Linked DNA regions of Homo sapiens: region 2 is linked to region 1. Evidence: fine-mapped expression QTL. A gene starts in region 1. The other region holds a variant in brackets. All regions are shown on one strand. Distances are from middle to middle. Region 1 holds the start of AHCTF1 (AT-hook containing transcription factor 1). Region 2 overlaps ZNF670-ZNF695 (ZNF670-ZNF695 readthrough (NMD candidate)).

Region 1 (15,245 bases):
AGTTAACACATTTTTCCTACTAAACTTAAAACCAAAGTAAGTCAACCAGAACCAAAACCTTCAGAATTCCATGCAGTAGCTTTTTACAAAGTGTATTCAGAAGAGTGCTAATGGATAATGAGCAAAAAAGTTCCATGATCCCTATACTTCAATCAAAATCATCTCAATACAATTTTGGAAAGATTTTCACAAAATCCAAAGTCCAAAGGATAACACACAAAAAGCATTTTTTGGAAAATGAAATATAGTAAATGTTCTATTTCTTAGGCTGGGTGAGTTTTGTTATGTTGTTTGAATGCAAAACAAAGATGATATAGAAGTACTAGCTCTAAGAGAATAAAGCCACAGTATTTAAACTGTGGCCAGACATGATGGCTTATGCCTGTACACCCAGCACTCTGGGAAGCTCAGGCGGAAGGATCTCTTAAGACCAGGAGTTGTAGGTTGCAGTAAGCTATGATCAGGCCACTGCACTCCAGCCTGGGCAAGATCCTGTTTCTAAAAATATAAAAAATAAACCTAATGTGGTTTGTATAACTGTCCCCTCCCAATCTCATACTGAAATGTGATCCCCAGTGTTGGAGGTGGGGCCTGGTAGGAGGTGTCTGGGTCATGGGAGAGGACCCCTCATGAATGGGTTGGTGTCCTCTCCACAGTAATGAATTCACATGAGATCTGGCTGTTTAAAGCCAGGCATGGTGGCTCCCAGCACTTTGGGAGGCTGAGGCAGGCAGACTGACTGAGCCCAGGAATTTGACACCAGCCTGGGCCACATGGCGAAATCTCATCTCTACGAAAAATAATTAGCCAGGTGTGGTGGCGCCTGCCTGTAGTCCCAGCTACTGGGATTGCTTGAGCCTGGGAGGTCAAGGTTGCAGTGAGCCATAACTGCACCAATGAATTCTAGCCTAGGCGACAGTGAGACCCTGTCTTTAAAAAAAAAAAAAAAAAAAAGGCCTGGTACCTCCTCACTCCCCACTCTCATCATGTGAGTATCCTGCTCTCCCTTTGCCTTCTGACATGATTGGAAGCTTCCTGACACCCTCACCAGAAGGTAGGCAGCTGCTGGTGTCATGCCTGCACAGCCTGCAGAACCATGAGGCAAAATAAACCTCTTTTCTTCATAAATTATCCAGTTTCACATATTCCTTTATAGCAACACAGGCTAACGTATTTCTAATTCAAACTTTGAATCCAGGTTCTAGCACTTAATAATACATGTAACATTGTGCTTTACTATATTCTGTCTTCCTCCCTTTCATATCCAAGCTTCTAGAAAAGAGGAGTACTTATTTCTCCAGACTTCATCATGGTGCCTAGCACAAAGGAGTTCAAAAAAATGTTTAATAAAGTTTTTCAAATTTAACAGCCTTTGAATCTATAGGGCAAAATTGGTTTTAAGACTTTTCCAATTTAAGCACACTACAGAGAACATCGAAACACTCTATTATTAGAAATAGGGGCCAGGCGCGGTGGCTCACACCTGTCATCCCAGCACTTCGGAAAGCTGAGGTGGGTGGATCACCTGAGGTCAGGAGTTCAAGACCAGCCTCACTAACAGGGTGAAATCCCGTCTCTACTAAATACAGAAAACTAACCAGGTGTGGTGGCGCATGCCTATAATCCCAGCTACTTTGGGAGGCTGAGGCAGGAGAATCACTTGAACCCGGGAGGCGGAGATTGCAGTCAGCCGACACTGCACCATTGCACTCCAGCCTGGGCAACAAGAGCGAAACCCCGTTTCAAAACAAACAAGTCTCAAAACAAACAAAAGTGTATGGCCGGGCCGCGGTGGCACACGCCTGTAATCCCAGCACTTTGGGAGGCTAAGGCGGGCGGATCACGAGGTCAGGAGATCGAGACCATCCTGGCTAACAAGGTGAAATCCCGTCTCTACTAAAAATACAGAAACAAAATTAGCAGGGCGTGGTGACGGGAACCTGTAGTCCCAGGTACCCGGGAGGCTGAGGAGGGAGAATGGCGTGAACCCGGGAGGCGGAGCTTGCAGTGAGCCAAGATCGTGCCACTGCACTCCAGCCTGGGCGACAGAGCGAGACTCTGTCTCAAAAAAAAAAAAAGAAAGAAATAGGCCAGGCACTGTGGCTCACACCTGTCATCTCAGCACTTTGGGAGGCCAAGGCGGGAGAATGGCTGAGGTCAGGAGTTGGTTAGAGACCAGTCTGGCCAACATGGTGAAACCCCGTCTCTACTAAAAACAAGAAATGTAGCAGCCAGCCACGGCTGCATACGCTTGTCATCCCGACTACTTGGGAAGCTGAGGCATGGGAATCGCTTGAACCGGGGAGGTGGAGGTAGCTGTGAGCTGAGATGGTGCCACTACACTCCAGCCTCAGCAACACAGCCTGACTGTCTCAAAAAGAAAAACTATATTATTAGAAAGAATATCTCATATAAAGGTATATGAAAACACAAACACACATGAAACACCTACGTTCAGTACTGTACAAAATTAAACAGAATCCCAGCCTTTTATGACATGCCAGCACTGGCAACCTATAAAAAGTAATTTACTAAGTTTCAATTCCTTTCCAAAGGCTAGATAGGCAGAGCAGGAACGTTCTACTGGCTTTGAATGAAGATACTGTTCATGGCCGGGCGCGGTAGCTCAAGCCTGTAATCCCAGTACTTTGGGAGGCCGAGGCTGGCGGATCACAAGGTCAAGAGACCCAGACCATCCTGGCCAACATGGTGAAACCCTGTCTCTACTAAAAATACAAAAATTAGCTGGGCGCGGTAGCGCGCTGTAGTCCCAGCTACTTGGGAGGCTGAGGCAGGAGAATCGCTTGAACCTGGGAGGCAGAGGTTGCAATAAGCCAAGATCACGCCACTGCACTCCAGCCTGGCGACAGAGCAAGACTCCGCCACCAAAAAATTAATTAATTAATTAAATTAAATACTGTTCGGCCGGGTGCGGTGGCTCACGCCTGTAATCCCAAGGCAGGTGGATCACGAGGTCAGGAGATCGAGACCATCCTGGCTAACACGGTGAAACCCCATCTCTACTAAAAATACAAAAAAAATTAGCCGGGCGTGGTGGTGGGCACCTGTAGTCCCAGCTACTGGGGAGGCTGAGGCAGGAGAATGGCATGAACCCGGGAGGCGGACCTGGCAGTGAGCCGACATCGCGCCACTGCACTGTAGCCTGGGCGACAGAGCGAGACTCCGTCTCAAAAAAAAAAAAAAAAAAAAATTACTTCTGCTTGCCTGTCTTCTCCACTACACTATGAATTCCTAAAAGGCAAAAATCACCAAATCTTATTCCTGGGCATTCGACAAGGTCACAGTGCCTTTGGACTAACAGGTCCTAAATGTAATAAATTAGGATAACAGGATACTGTATAGCAGGATATTATTAGGATACTAGCAGAGACAAGAAATAGGCATGTTAAACAATAAAATCAATTTTTTAAAACTCAAGATTGGGCCCAATTATTTTTAAGTATACACTGGTTCAGTATTAAACAAAACAAAATTCTTAAAATTACTAGGCCAGATACTAAAAACAGAATACTATAAATCAGTTTTCTGTGTGAAATACACAAATTCCTGCAGTAACTGAATTCCACCACAGAAAATGGAACTCTAATCTAGTTCAACAATTATATTGCAACATGTACCAAGCAAACATTTCTATAAACCACTTTGTATGCAATGGTACTTTTTTTCTTTTTGACTAATAAAAAGACGAATTGTCATTTAAATGTAAACTACCAGTGGACCCAGAAACTTCAAGCCTTTCAGAAATTTCTTACCAACTTAATTCAAACATTTTAAAATCACAAACTACTTTTAAAACACCGTGTTAGTAAAGGAATGCAAGGTCAAGAAGATAACCTTCTTCCTGACTTTAAGGAGTTTACAATCTAGAAAAGGAGATATATAGTCAATTATCAGAGTATCAGACACAAAGAATAAATGCTACTACAATAGAGGTACATATGCTGTGAGATCCCAGTAAAAAAGTGGGATAAGGGGAAATAAAAGAGTACAGTGGGCTGGGTGCGGTGGTTCACGCCTGTAATCCCAGCACTTTGGTTGGCCGAGGTGGGCAGATCGTCTGAGCTCAGGAGTTCGAGATCACCCTGGGCAACATGGTGAAACCCCGTCTCTACTAAAATACAAAAAATTAGCCGAGTGTGGCGGCGCGTTCCTGTAGTCCCAGCTACTCGGGAGGCTGAGGCACAAGAATCGCTTGAGCCCTGGAGGCGAAGGTTGCAGTGAGCCAAGATCACGCCATTGCACTCTAGCTTGGGCTACAAAGTGAGACTCCGTCTCAAAAAAATAAAAATAAAAATAAAAATACAGTGAAAACATTGGATTTAGAAGGAGGACCTGAAATTTGAGTATTTAAAAAAGGAAAGATGGCACTCCAGGATGAAGGACATGAGCAAAGAAACATCAGAGTGGAAACATCTCTTCCACAGAATGAGTCCAGGATTGATGACGATTCTGGAATAGCAAAAGCATAAAATTTGTTAACATATGAGGATAGACAGTAGCATATACTTATTGTAGAGACCTTTGAGCTAACCGAGGGAAGTTACACTTCATTCTGGGAAGAAAGAAAAGTCCCTGAAAATATTAAAGGTAGGCGTGAAAGACACAACGTTTTGCTTCCTCTTAAAATATATCTGTACCAGCCGGGCGCGGTGGCTCACGCCTGTAATCCCAGCACTCTGGGAGGCCAAGGCGGGCGGATCACGAGGTCAGAAGTTCAAGACCAGCCTGGCCAATATGGTGAAACCCCGTCTCTACTAAAAATACAAAAATTAGCCGGGTGTGGTGGCGTGCGCCTGTAATCCCAGCTACTCAGGAGGCTGAGGCAGGAGAATCGCTTGAACCTGGGAGACGGAGGTTGCAGTGAGCCAAGATTGTGCCACTGCACTCCAGCCTGGGCAACAGAGCAAGACCCCGTCTCAAAAAAAAAAAAAGATGTATCTGTACCTATGAAAAAGGAGAAGCATAAAAAGAAAACAAAAGTCTCAAAACTGATGTATAACGATCTTTTTTATTTTATTTTAGCAACAGGTTCTCGCTCTGTCACACAGGCTGAGTGCAGCGGCGCGATCCTAGCTCACTGCAACCCTCGAACTCTCAGTTTGAGGCTGAAGCTCAAACGTTCCCCCCGCCTCAGCCTCCCAAGTAGGCGCGCGACTAGAGGCGCCACCAATTCCCGGTTGACATGATGTTTTAAAAATTTTTTCAAGATAATTATTGTTGTTTGCAAACTCGTGACAGCTTGGTAGTATGTTACTGAAGGATCAGGATCCAAAAATCACAGTACAGAGACAACGTAGACTTCCCATAGCGCTTGGCACACTTAAAACATCCCTTCAAGTATTAACCTTAACTGGGCTTGTCATCCCAGGTCAAATCCTCCGAAATAAGTAAACCACTCTAATTTCTTCTCTCCTAAGAGACTCTATCAGTGAAAGCTCACAAAAAAACAGTTTAAAAAAAAAAAAGGGGGGGTCTCGCCATGTTGCTCAGGCTGGTCTCAAACTCCTGGGTTCAAGCGATCCTCCCGCCTCAGCCTCTCAAAGTGCTGGGATTACAGACAGGAGCCACTGCGCCCAGCCAAAGACAGTTCTTAAAATCTACAGGTTCTTTAGGATATTCTGAGAATAAATATCGTTTAGGATTTCCCCAAAGGATTTACGTTTTGTTCTATGAAGAACCCAGTTCTTCCAAAAATTTCTACAACTGACGATTTGGAAATAAAAATAACGCTCATCTCATAAAACTTTGCACACAGATAGTATGAACCTCGTAAGCTTTGAGAACAAAATTTCCCCATCTCTCAAAACAAAACACCCAAACCAAAACAGTCAACCAGTGGCAAAAGAAACCGTCCTGTTTCCCAGGTAGGAAAAAGGAAGGCAAAGCACCCCAAGATGTGCTTTTATTTTAAATCTCCTTGATCTGACCAATCGGGTGAGCTGGAACCTCACGGCTGAGCCCCGAGTCCAACTTCTTCCCCGCCAGGACTACTCACTGTGGCCAGGCCCAAGCGCATGTGGAACACACGCCAACACAGGACAGGCTCAGCACGCCGGCCGCTTCCCTCGGGGAAAGGCCCGCCAACGAGTCCATCGCGTGGGAGAACAGTGGGAAAGGGTCGCGGCCCCGGCCGTCCGTAAAGGGACCCGACTGCCGGCGCAGGACGCGAACCACCAGCGCCGCTCCGCCGCCATGTGCCGCCGCTCCTCCGGTCCGAGATTATGTAACGAAGCCCGGCGCCCGCGAGCCTGCCGTACCCGCCACCGCCACCGCTCGCCCCCTCGAGCCCCATCCGTTGGCCCCGCGCACGCCCGGCCTAGGCCCGGCGCTCGCGGGGCAGAAGCCCCGCCGCCGCCGCCGCCGCCGCCGCCGCCGCCGCGGGTCCAGGCCGCGCGACCCGCCCTCCGCCGCGCGGGCCCAACCCCCTCCCTCCCTTCCCCCTACCTGAACGGGGCGGGTGAGCGCGCCGCCGCGGGCCGAGTCCACCGGGTCGCCAGGCCAGGCGCGAGCTCCTCCCGTGCGGGTCCGTCACAGCATCTCCCGGGAGACGTGGCCGCCACGGGCCGGGCTCACACCCCTCCGCCCGGCTGAAGCCGCTCCTCTGCGCTCCGGCCGCCGCCTGCGACCTCCCCGGCCACCTCAGAGCCACACGCCCCCGAGAGTGCCTTCGCGGGCTGTAGGCCTGCAGACCGCTCAGCGGCTAAAACGCAGTCGCTGCTCCCGCCGCGCTTCTGGGTCCTTCCCCTTGCAACGCTGCCTGCTCGCCTCGGACAGCGCCGGCCCCGCTCTGCGCATTACCCTGCGCCGACAAAACCGAGTTCCACACGCCCCGGAAGGGAGGGAGCAGAGGAAAGGGCGGAGAGGGAGGGGAGAACCGGCGGGAGATCGCGGCTGCAGGGACCAGAGTTCTCGCGATGGTTCCGCGCTCTAGCGCCGGCTCCGCGGGAATTTTCAAACTCTCGGTGAAAGAAGGAGGTGGGAGGGAAAGGGAGGAAAGAGAAGCAGGGCCTGGAAGGGCGGATCATTTACAAAAAAATCGGGTCTCTCCGCCTCCGAGGAGCTGGTGGGGAGAAAGACTACGAGTCCCACAGTGCCTTGCGCGTGAAGCCGCCCTGGCGGCCCCGGCGGCGCGCCCCGTGCGCAGTTGGGAGTGGTAGTCTTCGCTGGGGGTCGCGCCGGGCTCTGCCAGCCGCCTGCTGCGATTGCAGGCGGACTCTCTTGTCACGTAATCGTGTGGCCCTGCCAGCTGGGGGCCGAGTGATAATCTTTCTCCCATAATTGGCAGCTTGCATTCTGTATTTTCTGTTCTGTGCTCCCACTTTTCTTTTTTTCTTTTTCTTTTTTTTGGAGACGGAGTCTTGCTCTGTTGCCCAGGCTGGAGTGCTGTGGCACGATCTTGGCTCACTACAACCTGTGCTCCCGCTTTTCATGCCAAAGGTGGGCTCCCAGACTTCTGGGGAAACGCTTTTTCCACGGTGCTGTTTTTTCTAGCATCCTCCTGTGCTTTCATGGCCAAAAATGCTCGCGCAGCCTAGCCTAATCTTTTTAGTCAAAATTTTACCCCAAATCACTGTTATCTTTTTGGTCACCGCGGGTTTTCATTGTGGAATTTCTTATTTCTTGTTAGTATCTTCCTTTGAAGCAAATCCCAGCGCCAAACATGTTTCAAACAGATAGGGAACGTATCCTTAATACTAAGTAGTAAGTAAAAGGATTATAACATGAGGTAGAGTAGGGATTTTAAGAAGATGCTCTTTTATCAGGAAAGTTTCTACTTTTCTGTTACCTTTCATATGTGCTTTTTAAATTTTTTTATTTTTGAGACAGTGTCTCGCTCTGTCGCCCAGGCTGGAGTGCAGTGGTGTAATCAAGGCTCACAGCAGCCTCGAACTCGTGGGCTCAAATGATCCTCCTACCTCAGCCCTCCAAGTAGCTGGGACTATGGGCATGGACCACCATGCGCCACTACGTCCCATTAATTTTTTTATTTTATTTATTTATTTATTTATTTATTTATTTGAGACGGAGTCTCGCTCTGTCACCAGGCTGGAGTGCAGTGGCACAATCTCGGCTCACTGCAACCTCCGCCTCCCAGGTTCAAGAGGTTCTCCTGTCTCAGCCTCCAGAGTAGCTAGGACTACAGGTGTGCGCCACCATGCCCAGCTGATTTTTGTATTTTTAGTAGAGACAGGGTTTCACCATGTTGGCCAGGATGGTCTTGAACTCTTGACCTCGTGATCCACCTGCCTCAGCCTCCCAAAGTGCTGGGATTATAGGCGTGAGCCACCGCGCCCGGCCTTATTTTTTATTTTTTGTAGAGACTGTCTCACTGTGTTACCCAAGCTGGTCTCTACTCCTGGGCTCAAGAGATCCTCCTGCCTCAGCCTCTCAACGTGCTGGGATTACAGACATGAGCCACCATGCCCAGCCTATTTTTATTTTTGTAGAGACTGTGTCTTGCTGTGTTGCTCAGACTGGAGTGCATGGCTATTCGCAGGCACTATGGCCTCATCAGTGCCACTGCTGCCTCCAACTTCTAGGCTCAAGCTATCCTCCCACCTCAGCTTCCCGAGCAGCTGGGACTACAGGCATGGATATCATGCCTGGCCCATATTCTTTCAGAGATAATGCTGCCTTTTGGAAATGTAATTTTCTTTTTTCTGTAATTTTTGTTTCTTTAGTAACAGCAACCTCCATACATATCATGTTTGTTTGCACAAGGTATTGGACCAAGTTGTGATAGAAACAGTTAAAAAGAGTACTGCTTTTGCAGTAGGAGGTTTGGGGTTCGTTGTCTTAATTATTTTAAAGAGATCTCTTCAAACAGAAACCACCCTCTGTTGGATGTGCTGATTTATGTCACATGCTCCATATTCTACACTTTCTTTGGCACTGTTTTATGCCCAGTTCATGAGTACTGTACCTCTCGATAGTCAGAAGACATGAATTATCAACTCAGGTGTGCTGCTAGTGAGCTGTGTGACATTAGGAAAATCAAGTGACCTCTCTGGGCTTCAGTTATCAGATGTGTAGAGCAAGGGATTGACTGATTCATTAGACAGATATTTATTAACTTTGCTCTAAGAGCCCTTCCAGTTGTGAAATTCAAAAATCTATTTTAATTGCACATATTATCCAGATTGACTGTCTACATAGTCTTTCAGATTTTAATCCTTTCCATCATTATCAACAGAATGATTTCTGTATCATTGTCTATATTTTTATTATTTACTTATTTTGAGACAGGGTCTTGCTCTGTTACCCAGGCTGGAGTGCAGTGGCACAATCTCGGGTCACTGTAGCCTTGACCTCCTGGGCTCAAGCAGTTCTCCTACCTCAGCCTCCCAAATAGCTGGGACTACAGGTGCATACCACCACTCCTAGCTAATTTTTGCATTTTTTGTAGAGACAGGGTTTCTTCATGTTACCCAGGCTGGTCTCAAACTTGTGGGCTCAAGTGATCTGCTGGACTCAGCCTTCCAAAGTGCTGGAATTACAGACGTGAGACACTGGCCTGGCCTGTGTAATTGTCCATAATCTAGACCAACTCTACCTGTCGTATTTTATTTCCCTATATAGTTCCTGAGCTTTGTTTTGTTTTGTTTTGTTTTTTAACTCTCCAAACCTGTTTTCTCTTTCAGTGTCTCCCAGCCTCTTCTCTCCCTGAGTAAATCTTAACATCCCTCAGGGGCCAGCTCAAGCCTCTTTCCTCTTCCCAATCTTTTCTTCAGCTTCAGCCCACATGAATCACTAAAAACTTGAGCGAAATATGCTGTCTGAATTGTTTCATGTCTGTTTCCCTTTTTGCCTCTGACTCTCTCCATCCACCCACCATCTCCATCTCCCAGCTGCACTGGGAGCACAGACTGTATCTTTTTAAAATGCTTCCCCCATAACTGCTAGTTTTTTATTTTAGTTGCTTTGCAAACTGAATTTCCAATTTAAAGCTCTCATTCAATCCTTTTTCTTCTTTCTTTCAGACATTTAACTAAGCAAATACCAGATTATTTTAATTGGTTTCAAGAGATGTTAATAAGTGTTAAATGAAGAAAAATCTAGATTTGGTAATCAAATGAGTTTGGGGGAAAAGCTGATTAAATAAAAATAAAAATGTATTTTCTGTAAGACTTCACTGGCTTTAATATGCTTGGCATTCCCCAGAGTTGCTTGACCATGGCATCCATTTGCACTTGTGTAACATCTTGCCTTATTAGTGCTTCACAGAACAGACTCTGGTAAACACGGCTTCAAAGCTTTCTCTCACTGGAAGAAGCATGTTGTGGTGAAAATAATGAAATCATTTGGAGCCAGACAAACTTGGGTTTACTGCGTTTCACTACTTTCTAGCAACATGACTTTTATGAAATTACTTCACTCTCTGAGCCTGTTTTCTCAGCTAAGAAGAAAAGATAATGTCACTTTCTTTGCAGAACTGTTGTAAAGATGAAAGGGAAGTACATGCCTTCCTTAGAACCTCATTCCGTTTTCACCTATATGGTCCTAAGTTATGTTGGTAAAAGGCCTAGAAATGGATAATAACTGGTACAAATCCTCATGCTTCCATCTGGAATATTTGATTCAAGAGACAATATTTTTAAAAATTTTATTTATTGATTGATTTTTGAGATGGAGTCTCACGCTATCACCCAGGCTGGAGTGCAGTGCAGTGGCATGATCTCAGCTCGCTGCAGCCTCCGACTCCCGGGTTCAAGCGATTCTCCTGCTTTAGCCTCCCATTGGGATTACAGGCCTGTGCCACCACTCCTGGCTAATTTTTGTATTTCTAGTAGAGATGGGGTTTCACCATGTTGCCCAGGCTGGTCTTGAACTACCGACCTCAAGTGATCCACCCGCCGTGGGCTCCCAAAGTGCTGGGATTACAGCATGAGCCACTGCACCCGGCCAAGAGGCAATATTTTAATACCATTCCAGCATCCTGGGAGTGACTAGCGGCCATCTGATTTCAGGGAATTCAGGACTTCATTGAAGCGTTCTGAGTTAGATCTCCAATTGTTTTGCAAAGTAACAGGGAAAGCCTTATTACTTTAACAACAACAAAAATGGAGCTTATCTGTCTCGAGCAGAGAAAACTGTCTTTGTCCTAACAGGTACATGTTCATCATTTTTGTGCAGTTGATTGGTTATAGCAAGCAGTGCCCACCCTTGATTTCTCCAATTGACAATAAACTAGGTGAATGAACAATCATATTTTTCCTGTTCCCCACTCTATGTCCAGTGATGGCACAATGGCCAGAGCGTAAATACTAAAATCATTGTCTAGTGACTGAGCAAATAATAATTCATCATTCAAAGCAAAATATGCAAAAAAAAAAAACAAAGCAAAATATGCCATATTAGATTATAAGGAACCTTAGAGATATTCTAGGCCAAACACCTTATTTTATAGGTGGTGAAATGAATTGTCAAATGATTTGCTACAAATTTTTTGGGATGGATTTTTTGTTTTGTTTAAAAAATAAGCCAAGTGCAGTGGCTCACAGCTGTAATCCCAGCACTTTGGGAGGATGAGGCAGGCAGATCACCTGAGCCCAGGAGTTCCAGACCAGCCTGGGCAATATGGCAAAAACCCATCTGTACAAAAAATACAAAACTTAGCCGGGCATGGTGGTACATGCCTGTAGTCCCAGCCACTTGGGAGGCTGAGGTGAAAGGATCACTTGAGCCTGGAAGGTCAAGATTGCAGGAGCGGTGGTCGTGCCACTGCACTCCAGCCTGGGTGACAGAGCAAGAGACCCTGTCTCAAAACAAAACAACAACAACAAAAAAAAAATTGTAGGGGCAGCAAAACTTTACCTTTACCCTCTTAGGCTCTCTGGCTGGGTTTGAGAATTAAATTGACACAAGTGAGAATAACAGGAGAAAGGGCTGGGCAAGGTGGCTCACACCTGCCATCCCAATATTTTGGGTGGCTGAGGCAGGAGGATTGCTTGAGCGTGAGCCTGGGAGTTTGAGGTTGCAGTGAGCTATGATCGGACCACTGCACTCCAGCTTGGGCAACAGAGCGAGATCTTATCTCTAAAAACAGAGAAAAGTACACAGATTTTTACATGTACATGGGAGCCCCCATAGGAAAATGAAGACCCAAAGACATGACAAAACCTAAATGCTTCTATAGTAGGTTGAACTAAGAGTGACGGTTGTGGACATGTGTTGGGATGCTAAAGATACAAGTTAATTTAACAATTAACTTTTTTTCAGATTTTTCTCAGCCTTGACTCCACATCTCTGATGACTAGAATGTTTCTTCTCTCCTGGGACAAGGAAGGCAGCGTTTCCCTTTTGTATCAGCCGTTTCTCAACTGCCTTTAGCTCAAAATAATCCTTATGCCAAAAGGCATATTTTGGGGTGCCATCCTCTGCCACCCTTCAACATTTTTAATTTTTAATTTTTAAAATTTTTTAATTTTTAAAATTTTTTTGAGACAGACTCTGGCCCTGTTGCCCAGGCTGGTGTGCAGTAGCGTGATCTCGGCTCACTGCAACCTCCTTCTCCTGGGTTCAAGCGATTCTCCTGACTCAGCCTCCTGGGTAGCTGGGATTACAGACATGCACCACCATGCCCAGCTAATTTTTTTTTTTTTTGTATTTTTAGTAGAGATGGGGTTTCACCATGTTGGTCAGGTTGGTCTTGAACTCCTGACCTCAGGTGATCCACCCGCCTTGGCCTCCCAAAGTGCTGGGATGACAGGCATGAGCTACCACGCCTGGCCCACCCTTCAACATTAAATCAAACCTACAGTCATAAAAGAAGAAAAGTAATAACAAACATTTAAATTGTAAAATATTTTTGTCATCATAGTCTTTATGCATTTGAAAAATTGTTTGCGTGAATGGTACCCCCCCCCCAAAAGCCAGATTATATTTCTTTCTCCAAACACTGGTAATATTTGTCATTAACAGGTACCACAATTAATCTGTTCCTTAAAATTTTTCCTCTTTCTACTTCTCCGTTTTTTTCACATTATTTTCTTCAAAGGTTACTTTAAAAAATCTATGTGTGGGCTGGGCACGGTGGCTCACGCCTGTAATCCCAGCACTTTGGGAGGCTGAGGCGGGCAGATCACGAGGTCAGGAGATCGAGACCATCCTGGCTAACACGGTGAAACCCCGTCTCTACTAAAAAGACAAAAAATTAGCCGGGCTAATTAGGCGGGCACCTGTGGTCCCAGCTACTCGGAAGGCTGAGGCAGGAGAATGGCGGGAGACGGAGCTTGCAGTGAGCCGAGATCGCGCCACCGCACTCCCGCCTGGGCGACAGAGCGAGACTCCGTCTCAACAACAACAACAACAACAAATCTGTGTGTTTTGGCTAAAACTATTCAGATTCTGATTTCTCTGTTACTTAAACCCAAAGAACACCCTTAATGACAGCTCTTGAAATACAGTTACATGTCACTTAATGATGGGGAAACATTTTGAGAAATGACAATTTCATTGTTGTACAAACATCAGAGTGTACCTACAGAAACCTGAATAGTATAGCCTACTACACACCTAGACTATATGCGATAGCCTATGGCTCCCAGGCTACAAACCGGTGCAGCATGTTACTGCACCAAATACTGTAGGCAATTGTAACACAATGGTGAGTAATTGTGCATCCAAACATAGAAAAGATACAGTAAAAATGTGGTATGAAAGATACAAATGGTCCACCTGTCTAGGGCACTTACCATGAATGGAGCTTGCAGGACAGGAAGTTGCTCTCAGTGAGTGAGTGAGGAGTGAATGTGAAGGCCTAGGACGCTACTGTACTGTACTGTAGACTTTATCAACACTGTACGCTTAGGCTACACAGGCCTGGAACACTCACTGTTCTCTACTGTAGACTATCCACACTGTACACTTAGGCTACACAGGCCTAGAACACTCACTGTACTCTACTGTAGACTTTATCAATACTGCACACATAGGCTACACAGGCCTAGAACACTCACTGTTCTCTACTGTAGACTTTATCAACACTGCACACGTAGGCTACACTACATTTATAAAGAAATCAAGTAATTACAGTATGGTGTCAGTGATGGCTATGTCACCAGGCAATAGGAGTTTTTCAGCTCCTTTATAATCTTCGAGGACCATAGTTACATTTGCAGTCAGTAGTTGACCAATACCTAGTTGCATAGCGTGTGACTGTCCTGCAATTGCTGACTAGAAGCTGTGTACTCAGACACCATTGCGTTTTTTATTTATTTTCAACCTTTACCTCAAGACTCATGCTTGCCTTCTGGTGTTGTTCTGTTGGATTCCAGAGGGCACAAGAGAGTTATAAGCTTCTTACAGTCAATGGCATTGCAAGTATTGCTCATGAGCTGCAAATCTGTCACCTGCCTGAAGCTCCCTGCCTCTAAGGAAACCCAGCTAAGAAAAGTTGGTTCCAGCTGGGCACAGTGGCTCACGCCTGTAATCCCAGCACTTCAGGAGGCTGAGGCGGGTGGATCACAAGATCAAGAGATCGAGACCATCTGGCCAACATGGTGAAACCCCATCTTTACTAAAAATACAAAAATTAGATGAGCGTGGTGGTGGGCACCTGTAATTCCAGCTACTCGGGAGGCTGAGGCAGGAGAATCACTTGAACCCGGGGGTCGGAGGTTGCAATGAGCTGAGATTGTGCCTCTGCACTCCAGCCTGGTGACACAGCGACTCTGTCTCAAAAAAAAAAGAAAAAGAAAAGAAAAGTTGGTTCTGTAGTAGAAAGTGATGGAAATAAGGACAGTCAAGTCTGATGTTCCATTGAGGGAATAGGTCACCCATTTTAACAAGTGCTTTGTGCCACATTTATTAGATTCTCAGTCTTATTTTATTTTATTTTATTTTATTTTATTTTTGTTTTCTTTTTTTTTTGAGACAGAGTCTCGCTCTGTCACCCAGGCTGGAGTGCAGAGGCGCGATCTCGGCTCATTGCAACCTCCGACCCCCGGGTTCAAGCCATTCTCGTGGTTCAGCCTCCTGAGTAGCTGGGACTACAGGCGCCCATCACCACGTCCAGCTAATTTTTTTTGTATTTTTAGTAGTGACGGGGTTTCACCATGTTAGCCAGCATGGTCTCGATCTCCTGACCTCGTGATCTGCCCGCCTCGGCCTCCCAAAGTGCTGGGATTACAGGCGTGAGCCACTACGCCCAGCCTAAATCATGATTGTATGGTAGTATTTTTTTTTAGCACAGTTTTACTTTGTTTCAGTTTCTTATCATTCAT
Region 2 (15,245 bases), 30 kb after region 1:
CACTGATCAGATCATCTGTAAAAATGTGGAATCTGGATTAGACGATCTCTCAGGCCACTTCCAGCTCGAAACTCTGACTTGCTATCTCTATATTCTTATAGGGTTTTCTTGCTCACTAAGTTTTTAGGAAAATAATAACTGAGAAAATAAAAATTTAATACAGTCATACAGTCATCTCAGGATACATTCTGAGAAAATCATTGAGTGTACTTACACAAATCTATATAGTATAGCCTACTATACACCTAGGCTATCAGGTAAGGCCTTGATATGGTTTGGCTGTGTCCCCACCCAAATCTCATCCAAATCTCATCTTGAATTGTAGCTCCCATAATCCCCACGTGTCATGGGAGGGACCTGGTGGGAGGTAATTGAATCATAGGGGGAGTTTTTCCCATACAGTTCTCACGACAGTGAATAAGTCTGCACGTGCTTTCTTGCCTGCCACCATGAAGATGTGCCTTTGCTCCTCCTTCACCTTCCACCACGATTGTGAGGCCTCCCCAGCCATGTGAAACTGGATCCATTAAACCTCTTTTTCTTTAAAAATTACCCAGTCTTGGGTATTTCTTCATAGCAGTATGAAAATAGACCAATACAGGCCTATTGCTCCTAGGCTACAAACCTGTACAGCATGTTACTGTACTGAATAGTGTAAGGAAATCATCACACAATGGTAAGTATTTGTGATAGAAATTTTTCAGCTCTATTGTAACCTTAGGGGATCACTGTCGTCTATGAGGTCCATCATTGACTGAAACTGTTATGCAGTGCTTAACTGTATTATGTGACAAAATGTGTATAAGTAATTTTATTTAATTAAGAGTAGAAGCTCTCCCGCAGTGTTCTCATATACTCTAAACTCTAAAATTATCATTCTACTCAGTATTGCTGATCTCTTCATTGAGCTTGTAAACAAACACCTACACAGAACAGAACTAATTAATTTTAATCTAAATCCATTTTCTTTTGTACAAAGGAGGCTTTTTCCCCAAGATTTGTTTCAATCCTTTAGCCTAAAATGATAACGCCCTATATTTACCTAGCGATGTTAACTTTTCAAAGTCCGTTCTTTTCTACCATCTCTCTAGAATGTAGGCTCCTAAGAGTACTACTGTCTTCTGGACAATGTCCAGCACACAGAAGGTGCTCAGTGAGTCCCAGCTGAAGAAAGTGAATATGATGCTCACAAGAACTCCCTGGGTAGACAACGGTCTCATCACTAACCCCTTACTTGACAGATTTAGGTACGGAGGCACGGGAGCCAGATGAGGACATTAACCAAAGATACCCACATGCCAGATATTAGTTTGGATTGGATTTTTTTTTTTTTTTTTTTTTAAGACAGAGTCTTGCTCTGTAACCCAGGCTAGAGTACAGTGGCATGATCTCGGCTCACTGCAACCTCCACCTCCTGGGTTCAAGCAGTTCTCTGCCTCAGCCTCCCAAGTAGCTGAGATTACAGGCTTCGGCCACCAGTCCCGGCTAATTTTTTTGCATTTTTAGTAGAGATGGGGTTTCACCAAGTTGGCCAGGCTGGTCTTGAACTCCTGACCTCGTGATCGACCAGCCTCGGCCTCCCAAAGTGCTGGGATTACAAGCATGAGCTACTGTGCCCGGCCGATTGGATCATTATTTTTAAAAAAATCTATAAAAGATGGTCATGGGGGCCGGGCGCGGTGGCTCATGCCTGTAATCCCAGCACTCTGGGAGGCTGAGGCAGGCAGATCACTTGAGGTCAGGAGTTTGAGACCAGCCTGGCCAACATGGTGAAACCCCGTCTCTACAAAAAATACAAAAATTAGCCGGGCCTGGTGGCAGTCACCTATAATCCCAGCTACTCAGGAGGCTGAAGTAGGAGAATCACTTGAACCCGGGAGGCAGAGGTTGCAGTGAGCCGAGATTGTGCCGCTGCACTCCAGCCTGGGGGACAGAGTGAGACTCTGCCTCCAAAAATAAAAAAAAGATCATGGGATAATTGGGGGTATGTTAATATTGAATTGCCCATTCTATGTTATTAGATATCATGAAACTATTATTGTTATTATTTATTTTTATTTTTGTAGAGATGTGGTCTTGCTGTGTTGCCCAAGCTAGTCTTGAACTCCTGACCTCAAGTGATCCTCCCACCTTGGCCTCCTAAAGTGCTAGGATTACAGGCATGAGCCACTGCGCTGGGCCTATTTCTTGAGATGATAACGTTGTTGTGATTACTCAGTATAACGTCCTTATGCTTAGGAGATGCATGTTGTGACTGTAATATTTACAGGTGGTATCATGATATGTGAAATGAACTTTCTATTGGTTCAGTAAGAAAAAAAGAGATAAAGCAAATATTGAATTAATAAAATGTTAGTATTATCTGCATCTATATGGAGAATAAATGGTATTCTTTGTACTACTCTTTCAAGTTTTTAATTAAAAATTGGGAAACAGGCCGAGTGCGGTGGCTCATGCCTGTAATCCCAACACTTTGGGAGACCGAGGCCGGCAGATCATGAGGTCAAGAGATGGAGACCATCCTGGCCAACATGGTGAAACCCCGTCTTTACTAATAAATACAAAAAATTAGCTGGGCGTGGTGGTGCACTCCTGTAGTCCCAGCTACTCGGGAGGCTGAGGCAGGAGAATCGCTTGAACTAGGGAGTTGGAGGTTGCAGTGAGCTGAGATCAGGCTCCTGCACTCCAGTCTGGGCAACACAGCGAAACTCCGTCTAAAAAAAAAAAAAAAGAATTGGGGAACACAAGCAACGAAGAAACCACAGCAGAAAATCGTATGTCTGACTATAAGAAAACTTTAATCTTCTCTAATTATGGTTAATTTGGGTGGTAGGACTATATTGGACTATTCTTTTCATCTTTTTCTAAATTTTCCACGTGAGCAGATATTTATAATAAAATATTTTAAAATTCAAATTATGTAGCAATATGAGATAAACCTTCAATACCTTTCTAGAAACACATTGTGGCAGATTGGGTTTTTTTTTGAGATAGGGTGTCACTCAGCTTGCCCAGGCTGGAGTGCAGTGGCATGATCTTACCTCACTGCAGCCTCGAGCTCCTGGGCTCAGGTGACTCCTACATTAGCCTCCCCAGTAGCTGGGACTACAGGTGCACACCACCAAGCCTGGCTAATTTTTTGTATTTTTAGTGGAGACAGGTTTTGCCATGTTGCCCAGGCTGGTCCCAAACTCCTGGTCCTACAGACGTGAGCCACCACACCCAGCCTTGTATTTTCTAAAGATGGTTGCACCTGTATATTTATTACTACATGCATCCTACATGCCTTTTCTATGATGAGTCTGACACTTCTCCCACAGAGACGTTGGATCTATGTTTCTTCTCTTTGAATCTAGGCAGGGACTTGGTTTTTGTTTTGTTTTGTTTTGTTTTTGTTTTTGTTTTTTTTTTGAGACAGAGTCTTGCTCTGTCGCCCAGGCTGGAGTGCAGTGGCGCGATCTCGGCTCACTGCAAGCTCCGCCTCCCGGGTTCACGCCATTCTCCTGCCTCAGCCTCCCGAGTACCTGGGACTACAGGTGCACACCACCACGCCCGGCTAATTTTTTGTATTTTTAGTAGAGACAGGGTTTCACCATGTTAGCCAGGATGTTCTTGATCTCCTGACCTCGTGATCTGCCCTCCTCGGCCTCCCAAAGTGCTGGGATTACAGGCGTGAGCCACTGCACCCAGCCGGGACTTGTCTTATGATTGCCCCAGTATTGAAGTTTGGCAAAAAGTCACAAAATATGTGACTTTGAAGGCTAGGTCATAAAAATGAAGAAACCTCCATTTATTTTTCCTTCTCTCTTGGGATCCTTACCCTTAGAACTCAGCCATCACATAGTAAGGAGACTCAGGCCACAGACAGGTCTAGTGAGGAATTCTGGCTGACATCCTCAGCTAGTCCCCAGCCATGAGCAAGCATCAGCTGCTGTCATGATCCTGAGTGAATGATCCCTCAGAGTCCAGGCGCCAGCCTTTGAGTCTTCCAGCTGATATCCCTGACAATGTGGGTCAGAAACCAGCCATCCATTCTACGCCTGGTGTGAATTTCTAACCATGGAAACGGTGCGAGATAATACACGATGTAACGCATGATTGTTGTACTTTAAGCCACCCCATTTTCGGGTGATTTGTTATGCAGCCATAGTAACACGCGGGGACAGTGAAGTCCTCTAAGGTGAAAAGTGTGTTTGCTATTGGTTTAAGAAAGCGAGTGCCACTCACGGGGAAGAAGAAGTGTCTTGTAAATTATCACTAATCTCCTCAGATGTCAATGAATCAGATACTGTAAATTATCCTTACTCTCCTCAGATGTCAGCGAATCAGATACTGTGTCTTGGCCAGGTGCGTTGGCTCACACCTGTAATCCCAGCACTTTGGGAGGCCAAGGTGGGATTGCTTGAGGCCAGGAGTTTCAGACAAGCCTGGGCAACATAGCAAGACCCTGTCTCTACAACAAAATTTAAAAATTAGCCGGGCATGTACCTGTAGTCCCAGCTACTTGGGAGACTGAGGCAGGAGGATTGCTTGAGCCCAGGAGTTTGAAACTGCAGTGAGGTATGATCTCACCACAGGACTCACTCCAGCCTGGATGACAGAGTGAGACCCTGTCTCAAAAAAAAAAAAAAAAAAAAAAAAAAAAATATATATATATATATATATATATATATATATATATATATAAAATCTCTTTTCTGAAAGAAGCATTTAAATGTTGAAAACACATTATCTGCTTATTCTAGAACCCAAAATGGGCATTTTTTTTGTTTTTGTTTTGAGACAGAGTCTCACTCTGTTGCCCAGGCTGGAGTGCAGTGGCACAGTCTCGGCTCACTGCAACCTCCACCTCCTGGGTTCAAGCAATTCTCCTGCCTCAGCCTCCCAAGTAGCTGGGACTACAGGCGAGCGCCACCATACCCGGCTAATTTTTGTATTTTTAGTAGAGATGGGGGTTTCACTATCTTGGCCAGGCTGGTCTCGAACTCCTGACCTCGTGATCCACCAGCCTCAGCCTCCCAAAGTGCTGGGATTACAGGTGTGAGCCACCGTGCCTGGCCCAAAATGGGCATATTTTTAGAACCTAGACTATTGAGCTTGTCACTTTTTCTTACAATGTGCCACATTCTGCACCAATGATGCAGGAAATTAACAGCTAGATGTTCTTAGTTCTCCCTCTCCGTGGCGGTTCTGAAGATAGGCGGTGAAAGTGGACTGTTCCTCAGAAGCAAAAACTCTCCAGTGTTTCTGATCCATTAGTTCCGTAGCAATGTATGAGTTTTCATAACTATGGTTATGTATTTTGGTAAGCTGCTATCTTCATGCAACAGTCAATTTCACTGAACTTCATTTCCTCTAAGTATGTTAGATTACATATTTCACAATGTATTATTTGAAACAAACCAATCTCATTGAAAAACCCAGTTGAGAAGCTTCATGAATAATTTAACTGCTTGCTTTTCCTCTCAGATTTCACACATTTTGCCACGTCATTATTTAAGGAAACTTTCTCATATTGTAATACTTCCTCTTTTCTATTCAAAGAAATTGTAAACATATCAGCAAAAAGGGAACCACAGTTTTATCTGGAACACTAATATATTTAGAGTGAACAACACTGCCACCCTAAGATTTCCCAGTAACCTAGATGCATTTTGCTGTACTCAAGCAGGCTGATATGATTGCAGTTTGGGGAAAAATTTATATTATATAGAGTGTGGTTTCTTTTGGAGTGGTTTGCTAGTTTCTCCAATGCTGTTTGTCATATATGTAAAAGTAAAAACAGTTGGTATTGTGTAGCAGTATAGAATACTACCTATGTTCTCTCTCTATATATATGCCCCAGAGAACCATTTGTTTCCATTCAGAGTGATAAGGTTATACAAGACCTACTTGGCCATGCAAGACAAGTTCTTTTCTTCATTTCTGTCTACAAATTCAGATCATTTCTCCATAGTTCAAGATAGCTATCTATCCTTCAAAGAATGGTACAGGCCAGGCATGGTGGCTCACACCTGTAATCCCAGCACTTTGGGAGGCTGAGGCCGGTGGATCCCTTGAGCCCAGGAGTTCGCGAGCAGCCTGGGCAACATGGCAAAACTCTAGAAAAATATAAAAATTAGCTGGGCATGGTGGTGCTCACCTGCAGTCCCAGCTACTTGGGAGTCTGAGGTGGGAGGATCACCTGAGCCTGGACTGGTTGAGATCACGCCACTGCACTCCAGCCTGGGTGGAGACCCTGTCTCAAACAAACAAACAAAAAACAAAAAACAACACAAAGAATGGTAGAGAGAGCTGTAAAAGTAAAGAATCTATGAAGGTCTTTTGAGCTCAAAAATGTTTCTATTTCAATTATCATTTAAAACATGTTCACTATGAAGGTGGGCTTCCTGACTTGATTCACTCATTGAAATTCATAGTAGGGTCAGTTGATGACCAAGAAACTTAGCTATTTCAAAATCATGGGGTATAAGTCTTAACATCAAATAATGCATATGTAACTCAAACTTCTCATCTTTAGCATCATCAGTTCAAAAATTATATACGTTACTCCACTAATTAGGCATAACACTTCATTAGAAGTTATATATGCATTCAAAGCCACCTCCAGCTGCACCAGCCTATAATGAGCTGTTTATTTGTTCATGTGACAATCTTATATTGCTACCTATTATTTCATGTGCACGTAGATACTCGATAAAGTCTTTTAAAATGAATGAATGCAAATCTTCTGCCTCCCACAGTGCCTGTTCTTAAATCCTAAGCCCCATTATTGCTACTCCCTGCCACCTCCATTCCATAAACTGCAGGGCCATTGTTCTATAAGCTGCTTGAGTTTAAGAGTGTTGCTTTCACAGCTCTCTTCATACGTACAGGAAGGCTCTGCTTCTCCTTCCCAAGACACTCAGGGAATCTTTCCAGGATGCTTCCCATTCACTCTACTGAATTCACCTACTCCCTCTTGCTACCTCTGCTTATAGTATTTTGCTTCAGACCCAATTGTCACCCACTGGTCCCTGAGATAGGCAAAAGATGCTTTAGACTATTTTCTTGGGTGCTGCCCTCGGGCTCCACATCCTGCAGCCTGCCTCATTCCCATTCTGGAAGGGAGTTCAGATAGCTTGAACTTAGTAGTAAGGGTGATCTGACTCCTGTGATCATTGACTTCAGTGTTCACCAGGCTGCTTAGCAAAGGGCCCTCTTCATCACTCCCTTCATCATTCAGTTAAGGGAAAAGATCTCAAGAACGCAGAGGCATAGAGAGGCACCTCAATGGCACTGTGCTTTGCAGACATATGAGTTGTCATGGCAGACGGTGGTGGTGACGATCACTGCTGCCTGTATCTTTATAACCTTAGAGAAATCTGAACTTCTCTTTAAGGAAATC[C/T]ATGTGTAATTTCCTTCTCTGGTTGCTTCATAGGGCAGTCAAGGCGGCAGGAAGCCACAAAGCCCTGGCTAACAAATTAAAGCAATGTTTATATGCTAGGCTTGGTCTTTCCTAATGAAGGAGAGGCTGCTGACTAGTGGGGCTCAGGTCAGACTTCCTGTCACCAGCTGGGCTTGCACACGTAGGGAACACTGACGAATGGCTTGGGCTTTGTGCCCCATCAGCACTGGGCCCTCATGGCCCAGTCACAGGAATATGGCTAGCAAGGCAGCACGACTGCTTTACACCAGAGTTCAGGGAAAGGCATCACATCCCTCAAGCCACCCAAGCAAGAAGTCTGGTGGTCGTCCTAGCCTCTTGCTCTGCCTCATACCTCACAGACGATTTGTTTACCACGTCATAAAGATTTTACTTCTTAAATACCTCTCAAATCCATCCCCTTTCCTCTCAATGGCTCTGGCCACTGACTTAATTCAGGTCCTCATCATTGATCATCAGAGTTACTAAAATGAGAAGCAAGTGGCTTCCGTGGGGCTGGCCTCTTCACCTCTAAGCTGATGTTTTCTGCAAGAGTGATCTTTCTAAATTACTAACATCAGATTTCATCACCTCTCTGACCCCCTTCTGCCAGCTTGAAACCTTTCTTTTTTTTTTTTTTGAGACGGAGTCTCGCTCTGTCACCCAGGCTGCAGTACAGTGGCACGATCTCAGCTCACTGCAAGCTCCACCTCCCAGGTTCACGCCATTCTCCTGCCTCAGCCTCCCGAGTAGTTGGGACTACAGGCACCCGCCACCACGCCCGGCTAATTTTTTTTTGTATTTTTAGTAGATAACCGGGATGGTCTTGATCTCCTGACCTTGTGATCCGCCCATCTGGGCCTCCCAAAGTGCTGGGATTACAGGTGTGAGCCACCATGCCCGGCCTTGAAACCTTTCAACGATTCCTCGCTGCCTTTAGGCTGAAGTCCAAACACCTTAGCAGGCAAACCGGCTCCTGTCTCTTGCCACCTTTCTCCATGCCCCTCATTCCAGCTATATTCATCTAATGTCCATTTCCGATCATGTCACACTCCTTCTGCCTTTAGTGCTTTTCCATGCTATTCCCTCATCCGGAAGTGGCCATCCTTCACTAACTAGCTCACCCCTGCCACTGCTTCTGCATTCATTTATTCATGACACGTTTACTAAAGGTGACTGTGTGCCAGCCACTAATCTAGGTGCTGGGCATCAGTGAATCAAACAGACAAAACTGGCCATGTGCAGCGGCTCATGCCTGTAATCCTAGTACTTTGGGAGGCTGAGGCAGGAGGATCACTTGAGGCTAGGAACTGGAGACCAGCCTAGGTAACAGAGTGAAACTCTGATTTTACAGAACATAATAAAAAGAAAAATAAAAAACAGGCAAACTTCCTGACTTGTAGAGCTTCCCTTCCAGTGGTGGTGATGGTGGTGGGAGGGGAGGAACAATGAAGCGAACAAACAAGTAAATTCTACGCTAGATGACAAGACAAGTGCTATGGAGAATAATCCGGCAGGGAAGAAGGCTGGCAGTGCCAGAGCAGGTGCGGGGGTTATTGCGATTTTAAATGGAGTTGTGTATAATAGGAAAAACCAACTGCTTTCTCTTCTACAGTCATACTTGTCAGAGAATACTTCCTCTCCGGTTGCTAAAATGTGTGTGGAGTTTTCCCCACACCGACCAATTCTCCAACACCAGCTGGGTGATCTACAATTTAACTCAATCCTGACACTATGTACCTGGAGTTAGAGTCAGATTGCACAGCTTAAGGACTTAGTCCCACAAGACTGCCCCTACTTTAGATGCCAGTCACAAGCCCCAGGCTGTGACCCGTGTTCCTGACTGACAGGCTGTACACTGGAGTTCCCATGGTGCCCTCCTTGGATTTGATAATTTGCTAGGATGGATCACAGAACTCAGAAAACCACTTTATTTATGTTCACCTGTTTATTAGGAAGGATATTACAAAGGATACAGATGGACAGCCAGATGGGAGAGATGCATTGGGCCAGGTATGGGGGAGGGGGCAGGTGGCTTCCACGCCCCCTCCAGGGTGCATCGCCCTTCCAGCACCTCCGCGTGTTCAGCAGCCCGGAAGCTCTCCAAACCCCACAGTTCAGGGATTTTCATGGAGGCTTCATCACATAGGCACCACCAATTACTAACTCAGGTTTCCGCCCCTCTCCCCTTCATGGAGGATGGGGAGCTGAGCTGAAAGTTCCAAGTTTCTAATCATGGCTTGGTCTTTCTGGTGACCAGCCCTATCCAGGAGCCCACCAAGAGGTGCCCCATGAGAAAAAAAGACGCTACTATTACCCAGGAAATTCCAAGTGATCAGGATCTCTGTGTCAGGAACCAAGATCAAAGACCAAATATCAGAACAAAAGATTCTCCTAACGCCCCTATTACTCAGGAAATTAAAGGGTTTTAGGAACTCTATGCCAAAGGACTGGAGACAAATATTGCTATGGTTTGAATGTTTGTCTCTTCAGAAACTCATGTTGAAACTTAATCCCTGGCTGGGCCCAGTGGCCCATGCCTATAATCCCAGCAATTTGGGAGGCCAAGGCAGGTGGATCACTTGAGGTCAGGAGTTCAAGACCAGCCTGGCCAGCATGGTGAGACCTCATCTCTACTAAAAATACAAAAATTATCCGGGCATGGTGGCATATGCCTGTAATCCCAGCTACTCAGGAAGCTGAGGCATGAGAATCACTTGCACCCAGGAGGTGGAGGTTGCAGTGAGCTGAGATCGCGGCACTGCACTCCAGCCTGTGCAACAGAGTGAGTGAGACTCTGTCTCAAAAAAAAATTTAATAAAAAATAAATTAGAAAATAAAAACTTAATCCCCAATGTGGCAGTACTGCAAGATGGGGGAACTTTATGGGGTGATTGGGTCGTGGGGCTCTGCCCTCATGAATGGATTAGTCTGCTCATGGATTAATCCATGGGTTAACAGATTAATGGTTTATTATGGGAATCAGACTGATGACTCTACAAGAAGAGCAAGACAGGCCGGGCACGGTGGTTCACGCCTGTAATCCCAGCACTTTGGGAGGCCCAGGTGGGCAGATCACGAGGTCAGAAGGTGGAGACCATCCTGGCTAACCCCGTCTCTACTAAAACTATAAAACATTAGCTGGGCATGGTGGCGGGCGCCTGTAGTCCCAGCTACTCGGGAGTCTGAGGCAGGAGAATGGCGTGAACCCGGGAGGCGGAGCTTGCAGTGAGCCGAGATAGCGCCACTGCACTCCAGCCTGGGTGACAGAGAGAGACTCTGTCTCAAAAAAAAAAAAAAAAAGAAGAGCAAGACAGACCTGAGCTAGCACGCTCGGCCCATTTGCCATGTGATTTCCTGCGCTGCTCAAGATTCTGCAGAGTTGGCAGGGCATGGTGGCTCACGCCTGTAATCCCAGTACTTTGGAAGGCTGAGGCAGGCCGATCGCCTAAGGTCAGGAGTTCAAGACCAGCCTGGCCAACACGGCAAAACCCTGTCTCTACTAAAAATACAAAAATTAGCCAGGTGTGGTCGTGTGTGCCTGTAGCCCCAGCTACTCAGGAGGCTGATGCAGGAGAATCGCTTGAACCCGGGAGGTGGAGGGTGCAATGAGCTGAGATCGTTCCACCGTACGACCATACGAGCTGAGATCGTGCCACCAGCCTGGGTGACAGTGCAAAAAACGAAGAAAGAAAAAGAAAAAAAATTCTGCAGAGTCCCCACAGCAAGAAGGCCCTCACCAGGAGCAGCCTCTCAACCTTGGACTTCTCAGCCTCCATAACTGTAAAAAATAAATTCCTTTTTGTTTATATACCTTGTTTCAGGTATTCTGTTATAAGCAAGAGAAAACTAACCCAGAAAATTAAAAATATATATATATTTTATATATATATCTTTTTATAAATCACAATATCACAGGTAGTCAGGGAGGCCTCAGTGAGAGGGGACATTTGAGCAAAGACTTGAAGAAAGTGAAGGAGCAAGTCATGTGAGTATTTGGAGGAAAATATTAAGAGAAAAGTTAAGAATAAGGGCAAAGAGCCTGGGGCAGAGGCATACTTCAACTGTGAAGGAAGTAGAAAAAGGCCAGATGGCCTGAGGACAGTGAGCAAGTGAGAGAATAAAAGTCAAAGTGAGGTCGGGCGCGGTGGCTCACACCTATAATCTCAGCACATTGGGAGGCCAAGGCAGGCGCATCACTTGAGGTCAGGAGTTTGAGACCAACAAGGCCAACATGTTGAAACCCCATCTCTACTAAATATTAGCTGGACATGGTGGCAGGTACCTGTAATCCCAGCTACTTGGGAGGCTGAGGCAGGAGAATTACTTGAACCTCAGAGGTGGAGGTTGCAGTAGGCCAAGATTGCGCCATTGCACTCCAGCCTGGGCGACAGAGCAAGACTCCATCCCCCCACCAAAAAAAATTCAAAGTGAGACGGCACAGTGAGTCACACCTGTAATCCCAGCACTTTGGGAGGCTGAGGCAGGAGGATCACTTGTGTCCAGGAGTTCAAGACCAGCCTGGGCAACATAGCATGAACCTGTCTCTACAATTCTTTTTTCTAATCAGCTAGGTATGGGGGCACATTCTTGTAGTACTAGCTACCCAAGAGGCTAAGGTGAGAGATCGCTTGACCCTGGGAGTTCAAGTTTACAGTGAGCTATGATCACATCACTGCACTCTAGCCTGGGCAAAGAGCAAGACCCTATTTTTAAAGGAAAAAAAAGTCAAAATGAGAAAGTTGTGGGGAGGTCCTGTGAGCCACTGCAAGGTTTTACTCTAAGTGAGATAGTGAGATGAGGAGTTATTGGAGGGTTTGAACAGAGGAGTTACATATTAAATAAATCATATTAAATGTTACTTTTTTTGTTGTTTTTATTTTTTGAGACAGAGTTTCACTCTTGTCGCCCAGGCTGGAGTGCAATGGCGCAATCTTGGCTCACCACAACCTCCGCCTCCCAGGTTCAAGGAATTCTCCTGCCTCAGCCTCCCCAGCAGCTGGGATTACAGGCATGCGCCACCATGCCTGGCTAATTTTGTATTTTTAGTAGAGACGGGGTTTCTCCATGTTGGTCAGGCTGGTCTCGAACTCCCGACCTCAGGTGATCCGCCTGCCTCGGCCTCCCAAAGTGCTGGGATTACAGGTGTGAGCCACCACACCCAGCCTAAACGTTACATATTAAAAGGATTATATATTAAAAAGCCACTGGATTGAGAATAGATTGTAAGAAGACAAGGGTAGAGGCAAGGACAGCTGTTAGAAGACTGTTGCAAAACCCCAAGCTAGAAATGCTGGTGGCCTGGACAAGGGTGGGAGCAGTAGAGGTGGCAAGACATAGTTGAATTCTGGATATAGCTTAAAGGTCAGATAGGATCTCCTAATGGCATGAATGGGGGATAAAAGAGAAAAAGGGGTGACAAGGATGATGTCAAGGTTTTGGGTCTGAGAAACTCTAAGGATGAAGTTGCCACTAGCTGAGATAGGGGAAGACTTGCAGGGGCAGGTTTCAGGGGAAGATCAGGAGTTTTGACCTGGCCTTGTGTATTAATCCATTCTTGCATTGCTATAAAGAACCACCTGAGACTGGGTAATTTATAAAGAAAAGAGATTTAATCAACTCACGGTTCTGTGGGCTTTACATGCTTCTGCTTCTGGGGAGGCCTCAGGAAACTTAGAATCATGGCAGAAGGCAAAGGGGAAGCAAGCACATCTTCACATGGCTGGCAGGAGAGAGAGAGCAAAGGGGGAAATGCTATACACTTTTAAACAATCAAGTATCATGAGAACTCACTCATCATGAGAACAGCAAAGGAGAAGTCTGCCCCCATGATCCAATTACCTTCCCACCAGGACCCTCCTCCAACATTGAAGATTACAATTTGACATGAAATTTGGGTGGGGACACAGAGCCAAACCATATCATTCCACTCCTGGCCCATCCCAAATATCATGTCCTCACATTTCAAAACACAATTATGCTTTCCAAACAGTCTCCCAAAGTCTTAACTCATTTCAGCATTAACTCAAAAGTCCAAGTCCAAAGTTTCATCTGAGATAAGGCAGTCCCTTCTGCCTATGAGCCTGTAAAATCAAAAGCAAGTTAGTTACATCTAGGATACAATAAGGGTACAGGCATTGGGTAAATGTTCCTGTTCCAAAAGGGAGACATTGGCCAAAACAAAGGGGTTACAGGCCCCATGCAAGTCCGAAACCCAGCAGGGCAGTCATTAAATCTTAGAGCTCCAAAATAATATCCTTTGATTCCATGTCTAACATCCAGGCCACACTGATGCAAGGGGTAGGCTCCCAAGGTCTTGGACAGCTCTGCTTCTGGCGGCTCTGCAGGGCTTAGTGCCCCATGGCCGCTCTCACAGGCTGGTGTTGAGTGCCTGTGGCTTTTCCAAGCACACAGTGCAAACTGTTGATGGAGCTACCATTCTGGGGTGTGGAGGACAGTGGCCCTCTTCTCACAGCTCCACTTGGCAGTGCCCCAGTGGAGACTCTTTGTGGGGACTTCAACCCCATATTTCCCCTCCACAGTACCCTAGTAGAGGTTCTCCACAAGGGCTCCGCCCCTGAAGCAAATTTCTGCCTGGATATCCAGTTGTTTCCATACATCCTCAGAAATCTGAAAGAATGGAGGCTCCCAAGCCTCAACTCTTGCCCTCTGAGCACCTGCAGGCTTAACACCATCTGGAAGCCTCCAAGGCTTGTGTCTTATACCCTCTGGAGCAGCAACCTGAAACATATCTGGAGTCCTTTTAGCCATGGCTGGAGCTGGAGCAGCTAAAGCACAGGGAACAGGGTCCCAAGGCTGCACAGAATAGCAGGGCCCTAAGCCTGACCCACAAAACTGTTTTTCCCTCCTAGGCCTCCAGGCCTGTGATGAGAGGGGCTGCCACGAAAGTCTCTGAAATGTCTTGGGGGCATTTTTCCCATTGTCTTGGCTGTTAACATACGGCTCCTCTTTACTTACACAAATTTTTGCAGCTAGGTTGAATTCCTCCCCAGAAAATGGTTTTTTCTTTTCTAATACATGGCTAGGCTGCACATTTCCAAACTTTAATACTCCATTTCCCTTTTAAATGTAAGTTCCAGTTTCAGATAATCTCTTTCCTCAGAAATATGAGCATACACTGTTAGAAGGAGCCAGGCCATATCTTGAATGCTTTGCTACTTAGAAATATTTTCTGCCAGATACCCTAAATCATCTCTCTCAAGTTCAAAGTTCAACAGATCCCTATAGCAGGGGCACAATGCCACTAGTCTCTTTGCTAAAGCATAGCAAGAGTGACCTTTACTGTAGCTCCCAATAAGGTCCTCATCTCCATCTGAGAACTCCTCAGCCTGGACTTCATTGTCCATATCACCATCAGCATTTTGGTTACAACCATTCAACAAGTCTCTAGGAAGTTCCAAACTTTTCCTTATCTTCCTGTCTTCTTCTGAGCCCTCCAAACTCTTCCAACTTCTGCCTGTTACCCAGTTCCAAAGTCACTTCCACATTTTCAGGTATCTTTATAGCAATGTCCCAACTCTCTGGTACCACTTTTCTGTATTAGTTCATTCTCACATTGTTATAAAGAACTACCTGAGTCTGGATAATCTGTAAGGAAAAGAGATTTAGTCAGCTCAGGGTTCTGTGGGCTGTACAGGCTTCTGCTTCTGGGGAGGACTCAGGAAACTTACAATCATGGTGGAAAGCAAAGGGGAAGTAAGCACATCTTCACATAGCTGGTGGAAGAGAGAGAGCATAGGGGGAAGTGCTACACATTCTTAAACAACCAGATCTCGTGAGAACTTACTATCACGAGAACAGCAAGGGAGAAGTCCACCCC

The links.
Region 2: its variant is fine-mapped to the expression of AHCTF1 in whole blood (TOPMed, PIP above 0.99).

The regions. Positions count from the first base shown.
Region 1 is chr1:246,925,113-246,940,357 of GRCh38, forward strand. AHCTF1 (AT-hook containing transcription factor 1) reads right to left here and starts at 6,836. Exons shown (of 36, transcript NM_001323342.2): 1 at 6,466-6,836. RefSeq lists enhancers at 5,959-6,048, 7,169-7,218 and a silencer at 6,389-6,488.
Region 2 is chr1:246,954,666-246,969,910 of GRCh38, forward strand. ZNF670-ZNF695 (ZNF670-ZNF695 readthrough (NMD candidate)) reads right to left here. Exons shown (of 7, transcript NR_037894.2): 6 at 13,030-13,127. It also overlaps a transcript of ZNF695 not described here. Among named protein-coding and RNA genes, the nearest start is that of AHCTF1, 30 kb to the left of the region's middle. RefSeq lists enhancers at 7,658-7,817, 7,868-7,917. The variant C/T (reference allele first, on the strand shown) is at 7,388.